2 linked regions of the Homo sapiens genome follow. The protein of the gene in region 2 purifies or fractionates together with the protein of the main gene of each other region. This does not show direct contact. Each region holds a gene or a part of one and is shown on either strand. Other genes may lie near its edges.

What was found.
Region 1: the proteins of INPP5A (region 2) and TTC1 purify together in Homo sapiens (affinity purification with mass spectrometry; 2 studies listed by BioGRID and IntAct, with this or other methods). This does not show direct contact.

The regions. Positions count from the first base shown.
Region 1 is NC_000005.10:160,060,947-160,064,855, reverse strand, and holds part of TTC1 (tetratricopeptide repeat protein 1), read right to left. Parts: intron 1,315-3,909; exon of another isoform or gene 1,200-1,314; coding exon of another isoform or gene 1,183-1,199; intron 1-1,182.
Region 2 is NC_000010.11:132,645,541-132,649,449, reverse strand, and holds part of INPP5A (inositol polyphosphate-5-phosphatase A), read right to left. Parts: intron 3,583-3,909; coding exon 3,482-3,582; intron 1-3,481. UniProt on the Homo sapiens protein: Phosphatase that specifically hydrolyzes the 5-phosphate of inositol 1,4,5-trisphosphate to inositol 1,4-bisphosphate, and inositol 1,3,4,5-tetrasphosphate to inositol 1,3,4-trisphosphate. Plays a crucial role in the survival of cerebellar Purkinje cells.

The sequences.
Region 1 (3,909 bases), on a different chromosome or scaffold from region 2:
CCACTGAGTACAAAATATAAAAGTATCTCTTTGCAGTTAAAGAAATGCCTACTTTTAATATGATGAAAGCTTCCAGGAGAGTTCCCAGCCCCTATTCCCCACTCAGCAGTGCAGTCACTTTAATGCCATCCACCCTCAGCCTGTGCTTGCATAGATGAGAGTGGAGTCCTGCTGGCTCTCTCTGGGAATCAAAGCCTCCTGTCCTAACTGGCCAGTGCTATCAGAGGACACAGGCTTCTGGGGTGAGTTCTGGGAAAACCAACTGCTGTTCCAGTGAGGCTCAAGGCACCCTGCCAAGCCAGGTCTGCCTGGTAGTGAGGGCAGAGGTCCCTCCAAGTCTCTTCTCTCTAGAACGGCAGCAGCCACCTGCTAAATGTAATTCAACTCAGCCCATTTCCACTGAGCTTGGATTCATATTCAAGAGCTTCCTGCTTTCCTAAACAAATCCTTAGCTTCTATACCAGACTAGCCATTTCTTAGAAATGGGATCATCTTGATTTGCACAGCAACCTCAATAAGACCTCAATAGTCCAGCCTCCTCTTCCCAAGTTTCAGGCTTTATTTACACGACTTGGGTGAGGTATATAGGATGGGCGTGGTGGCTCACGCCTGTAATCCCAGCACTTTGGGAGGCCGAGATGGGTGGATCACCTGAGGTCAGGAGTTCGAGACCAGCCTGGCCAACATGATGAAACCCTATCTCTACAAAAAATACAAAAATCAGCTGAGGGTGGTGGCATACGCCTACAGTCCCAGCTACTAGGGAGGCTGAGGCAGGACAATCGTTTGCACCTGGGAGGCAGAGGTTGCAGTGAGCTGAGATTGCGCCACTGCACTCCAGCCTGGGTGACAGAGTGAGACTCCGTCTCAAAAAAAAAAAAAAAAAAAAGTCATGGTCTATAGCCAGCGGTTCTTGCCAAGCATGGTGACTCATGCCTGTATTCCCAGCACTTTGGGAAGCTGAGGCAAGAGGAGGGTTTGAGCCCAGGAGTTCAAGACCAGCCCGAGCAACGCAGTGAGACTCTATCTCTACAAATTTTTTTTTTAAAAACAAAAAACAGTTCTTATGCTGTTTTAAGATATAAGGAACATCTGAAACTAGGAATGTTCCAGAAAATTTTGGCAGGGATGGGTGAATAAACAGTTTCAACCCTTTCTAAACTGCTTTAATTTTTCTTACAGGTCTACTTCCAGTGGAGGTGAGAATGGGGGTGGACGAAAAGAGAAATCCCTAATCACCAGAGGTACAGGCTCCTTCCCACTTCTTAGCAGCTTTTCTCACTCTGAGGCCTCCCATCTTAGAGTAAAGCCCAGGTAAAGAACTTAAAGGTGCATGGCCTTGGCTGGGTGCAGTGGCTCACACCTGTAATCCCAGCACTTTGGGAGGCTGAGGCAGGAGGATCATGTGAGCCTAGGAGTTTGAGACCAGCCTGGGCAACATAGGGAGACCCTGTATCTACAAAAATTTAAAAATTAGCTAGGTGTGGTGGCACACACCTGTTGTCACAGCTATGCAGAGGCTGAGTTAGGAGGATTGCTTGAGCCCAAGGAGTTCAGGGCTGCAGTGAGCCATGATCATACCATTGCACTCCAGCCTGGGTAACAGAGCAAAAAAAACGCATGGCCTTTACATTTTACAGGCCTCCCTAATAACTCATGGTGAGAACTTTTAGTCTCAGGCTTAAGAACTAGCCCAAGGAAGCTCACTATGTCCAGAGAAAGGCCAACCCATCTTTGGATAAAACAGTAAATTGAGAAAGCTCCCAGAACCTGGGATGGCTGTTCTCCAGGCAGGCCTCCCAAACCTAAACCTGGGACACACACGTTCTGTGCTGCTGCTTGTGTCAGGAAATCACTGGCATAAACCCTGGGTGCCTGCACAAGGCAGCGGCACAGCCTCGGGCACATGGGCGTAGAGGGAGGGGCTCACAACAAGCAAGAGAAAGACAGGGCAGCCTCAGGGTGACCTGAGTTAGCAACACCAACCAGGAACGCTGGCAGTTTGTTCTGGGGTTGGAAAAAGAGGACAGGAAGGGGGAAAAAAAAAACCATCAAAAGCAGCCCAAGAAAATGTTGGTACTGGGAAATCCTTGGCTCTTGTGATATGGAGTGAGTGAAGTGAGAATGAGTATCAAGAGCCACTCACATCAGACTCCTGAGGAGGGGCAGCTCCATGGTGGAGAAGCCTACTCTGGATGGTCCACTGAGCCCAGGGCCATTACATGGATGGAGGGATCACTGCAAGCCCATCTCCAGTGCCAGAAAAACAATTTAAAGTACAAACTGGAAATTTTACTTGGCATCTATCATGTAAGCCACTGGGATGTAAAGAATAAAAGTAGCTTCTATGCACAATGCTCAGTCTAGTGGGGAGGCAGACCCAAAAGACGGAGGTGTGCCCAGAGGTGCTTTCTGACCTTGCAGTGGCACGAAGAGGCTACATGCCACAGTGCTCCGGGGGATGGGAATAGGTCCAGGGTGGTGGCATGTCACCGTGCTCCAGAGATGGCAGCTTCCTCAGGCAGCAATGGCTTGGCTTTAGGCTGGTCTGCACTAAAGGAGGTTTCCCTCTAGTGCAGAAAGACCATTCCAAGCTAAGACTGCAAATATTCAAACTGCCGACGAGAGGAAGAATTCTCTTTCCCAGGCCCTCGTTTTGCCTAACTGGCTAAAGGGCCTGTGTGCCACAAGCCACCTTTGAACTTTTAGCTTGGTTGATTCTATGGTGTGGCAGTCATGAAGATGTATTTCTCCAAATGCAGGGGACAGAGTGGCTGCACTCTAAAATCCATCAGCACATTCATGCAGAGGCCACCCTTCCCACCTGCTGCTTCCAGCCAATGCCTGAGCATGGGAGGGACTCGTCTGAGGGGCAGCACTGGCTCCCCAATGGCTTTGCTGAAACTTTCTCAGCACCACACTCCAGTGGAAAACTTCCCCGCTCCCCCGGCCTTTCCTCCTCCACAGGGGTCTGCCAACTCTGCCAACAGCCTCCAGCTCCCAGCCCCATTTTCCCTTGCAGGTGTTTCCCCCAGTAAATCTCTTGTACTTTTAATCCTATCTTGGCATCTGTTTTTTGGATGACCCAAACTAACACATAGATAATTATTCTTTTTCCTTCAATTCCAGTATCTCTGCCTTTATAACATTTCACATTAGTTTCACCGACCATCACTTAAGGGGGAAAAAAAAAAAGAAAATGCGAAATTCTGCTTTCTAAATGAGATTACATATATATAATACCTGGCAGGTAGTAGACACATAATAAAAGGCACACAAATAAATAGTCTCTGCGTTAGAGAAGACCTAAGGTCACCTGACATAGATTAATTCAACCAACATGTACTAATTACATGTGTGTGGCACCTTGCTATGTGTGGTAGAGATGCAAAGATACATGACATGGTCTATACACCAAAACAAGCTTAGAATTTGACAAGGAAGAAAAGACATACACACAAAACCAAATTCATATGTAGCTGAGTTATAAAATGCTACGAGAGTCAGGAAGGGGAAGATTCCTTTGGCTGGGGCAGGAAGACAGGAAAGGGGTGGAGGAAAGAAGAGATTTGGTCTATCTTTGTCTAAGAGTTTACACTTGAACCAGGCACCAAAGGCCATAGGACTGCAACCATATGAGACAGAGGTGCTGTCCGTGCAAGCCCAAACAGCGTGAGCCAATGCACAGAGATAGGCAGGCGAGCTGTGTGTCCAATGGGGCTGAAGCGGGGCAGGCAGGTGCCTCCTGCCAGGCTGTCCTGAGCCAGGCCCGTCAGCCTACGGTTCCCGTGCCACAGGAGGCCACTGACAGCTTGAGAACTGAGTTTTCAGGGTTAGTAATCCTGTGGCAAAATGAAGAATGAACCAGAAGGGGAGACCCTGGGGGTGGTTCTGACAGAAAGTTAGTCC
Region 2 (3,909 bases):
GCAATGTCTGCCATCCTACGGAAAATAACTTGATATGAGAAGCAGCAACACCACGTGAATGTGTCCCGTCATCCTACGAAGAAGCCGTCAACAGAAACAGACCCGGAAGAGGCAAAAATGACGGAGTGAGCTGAAAGCAACTGGGAACAGTCATTGCAACTGTGACCAGACAGCGAAAGGAACGCACAGACGGAAGGAAAAGCGAGGACAGGGAAAGCACACGTGAGGCTTCTGGAAGGAGTGGACAAACACAATGTCAGAAATAAAACGAACTGACTGCATGGACCTAAGAGAAGATCAAAATCTGCAACAGAAAAGAGCCCAGCCACTTAAAAATACAGCAACAGAGGCGATCCAAACCGAAACACAGGGAAAATGAGCTGAAAACAATCAGAAGAGCTTTAGGGCCCTGTGGGGCAGAACCAGGCAATCTAACATCAGGTAACTGGAGCCTAAGAACAAAAGAGAAGGGAAGGAAAAGAAAAATAGTATTTAAAGAAATAATGGACAAGGACAAATTTTCCCCAAATTTGATTAAAACGATAAACCCACAGACTGCAAATGCTCAAACGGCCCCAAGCAAGATAAACATAAAGAACATCAAAGCAAAGTACAACATAATCAGGTTGCTGCAAACCAGCTATAAAGACAAAACCTAGCAGTGGAGGAAAGGGCACATTATATACAAGAAAATTAAGAGAGAACAATGGCGAGATTCTCGCCAGCAACAATGCAATACAGAAGACAATGGGGCGATATCATTAAAGTAGTGAGAGGAAAAAAAATTGACAAGCTAGAATTCTATTTACAACAAAAACAGCTTTCAAAAATGAGGACAAAGACCTTTTTCAGATAAACAAAAGCTGAGAAAATTCATGAGCAGCTGACTTGTGCTAAAATAAATGTTAAAGAACGTTCTTCAGGCAGAGAGAGAAGGGTGCCAGATAAAAAGCAGAATCCACACAAAAGGGCGGAGGGCACTGAAAGCCAGTGAACTGGTCCACACCAAGGGCGTTTCTCTCACGTCTTAATCTTTTAAAAAGAAAATTGTTTAAAGCAAAAATCATAACGCTGTACATTAGGCATAAAGCGCGGAGGAAGGAAACACACACGGCATCGCGGGGGCACAAGGCCGTGGGGGCCACACTCCACTGTGAAGCTCTCACACCAAACACGGCGGCATCGTTCCCGTCCGGCCTGCGGTGTCCCCGCCTGCTGTGAGGGCGGCGTCCTCCGTGCTCAGGGTGCACCCCCACTTTCTCTCCTCTGGAAGGTGCTTCCCAACAGGGGCTGCTTTCCTTCTCTTACCGACTTACTGAGTTCTTCATATATTTAAACACTCGTTTTTGTCAGTAAGGTGTGCTGCAGATATCTTTTCCCGAAGTGGCTGAATTTTGATTTTGTTTTGAGTGACTTCATTTTGAGTGACTTCATTTTGAGTGCCTTTTCATAAGCAAATGCTTAGTTCAAACATGGCCACATTTTTCAGCCTTCCATTCTGTAGGCTGCACTTCCTGCACATTTTAAAAGAAATCTCTCATCCCAAAACTATATTTTCTCCTATATTTTAGACTGAAATTTTTAATGTTGCCTTTTACATTTATATAATTAATACAACTGAAATTCATCTTATGTAGGGTGAGTGAGAAGTGGCTGCTTATGACACAAAGCAGGGATCCAATTTCATTTTTCCCAACAGGACACCAATGATGCCGTGCCCCAGCCCATGTCCCCACCCACCCTCCTCCAAGGCAGCCGCGAGGGTCTGGGTGGGGCCTCGACTCCGCTCTCCACTCTCTGGGCTGCGCACCTGCCTCGATCCGCTCTCCTCTCCGGGCCTGCGTCATGCCACCTGCCCCACTGCTTCTTCGGAATGAGCCTTGGGGTCGAGCTGGGTGAGAACCCACTTTGTTTTCCTTCAGGATTCTTTTAACTATTCTTGACCCTTTGCTCTTATATGGCAATTTTAGTATTAGTTTGTTGAGTGTTAGGAAAAATGCCGCTAAGATTTTGATTAAAACTGCCTTAAACTGGCCAGGCATGGTGGTTCATGCCTGTAATCCCAGCACTTTGGGAAGCCAAGGCAGGCAGATCACAAGGTCAGGAGATTGAGGCCATCCTGGCTAACATGGTGACACCCCATCTCTACTAAAAAAACACAAAAAAATTAGCTGGGTGTGGTGGTGGGCACCTGTAGTCCCAGCTACTCGGGAGGCTGAGGCAGAAGAATGGCATGAATCCAGGAGGCGGTGCTTGCAGTGAGCTCAGATCACGCCACTGCACTCCAGCCTGGGCAACAGAGCGAGACTCCGTCTCAAAACAAAAAAAAAAAAAGAAAAAAAAAATGCCTTAAATTACAGATTATTTTGGGAAGTTGTGGCAGTTTTTTTTAGCAGCTGAAACCACTTTGCTCTGCTCGAGGACCCTGCGCTGGGAGTTCAACACGGAGGGCTTATGTCACAGCAAGGATGCAGCGGCTGGGATCGCCTGAAGCCTCGCTCACACTCACACTGGCACCAGGCCGGGAGGGCTCGACGGCTCTGCCCACAGGTCCCGACTCCGGGTGGCTGCATCGACCCACAGAGCATGGCAGCAGCGTCAACCCACAGAGCGTGGCAGCAGCGTCGGCCCACAGTGTGTGGCAGCGGCGTCGGCCCACAGAGCGTGGCAGCGGCGTCGGCCCACAGAGTGTGGCAGCTTTGTGAAGCTCTGCGATGTTGGGGGCTGGTCCCAGAAGCCCTCATGCTGTGAAGAAGCCAGGGCTTGCCCAGGGTCTGGAGGTGGAGACGAGCCCCCAACATGGGAATGTGCCAAGGCCACACTGTAGGGGACACAGAGGGCGGGCTTCACGGCTGCGGCCTCGGGAAAATACAGCAGCCACTATTAGCAACAGCCTATAGGAGGCCCCATGTCTGAACACAAGCCTGCCTGCCCCTGCCTGCTCCTGTCCACTCCTGGATGCCCCAGGTCCGGGCGCCCCCTCTTCCCAGGCAGGACCCAGTTGGGCCGGCCCTGTCAGAAGCCTCAGGGCATGTACAGTGGGAATACACGTGGGGCACCTTCCTCCTAAACGATGGAGATTTCGCCCCCAAGGAGGATAGACGCTCCCTGCCGACCTCCTTGAGACAGACTGCGCAGTGGGATGTGAACCCCGGCCACCACAGGCCCAGGCCTCAGACACACACACACGGAGACGGCTCCACTGGTATCTGGGGCTCACGTCCCCTGGCCCGAGAGCACAGACCCTCGCCGTGTGGAGGCAGCAGGCTGTCACTCCGTGGCCTTCTGTCGCCGCCCCAAGGAGGCTCGTGGCCACACGTCTGGGCCACTCCTCTCTTTGGAAAACTGAGACTCAGCCAAGATGACCCCCAGGTGAGTCCCGAATGGTGAGGCTGGTGATCATAGTACCATGAAAAGACCCCCGCCGGCACCCCACACCCCTGGGAAGTGGACATGCACCAGCACCTGCCCCTAGACTTACTTGACGAACTTGTCCACGTGGGACATGGAGGCCTCGTAGTTCTTCCCTCCAAACTCCTGACAGTGCAAGGCCATGAAGTGCGGCTTGTGTGTGTGCACGACCTGGAGGGAGAGAAGCACACTGTCAGGGTCGTCGGAGCCGTCCACAGAGCCACACGTGGCACCACCCCCTCCACCGCCCCCACAGCCTGGGAGCCACCAGGGTCTGGCAGAGACGGGGCCCCATGTCTGCGACCATGGGTTCTGGACAGATTCTAGGAGTCACGTCGCCTTTGTGCTTCCAGTTATTTATATTTCCAGTGCTTTTCATTTTCCCATTACTGTAAATTCCATAGAAAAGAGTCCAGATTTCTCAGAAGCCTCTTCAATCATCTAGAGGCCTTATTTCTAGTTAAAAAAATGTTATGCGTGTTTACTGCAGAGCCTCTG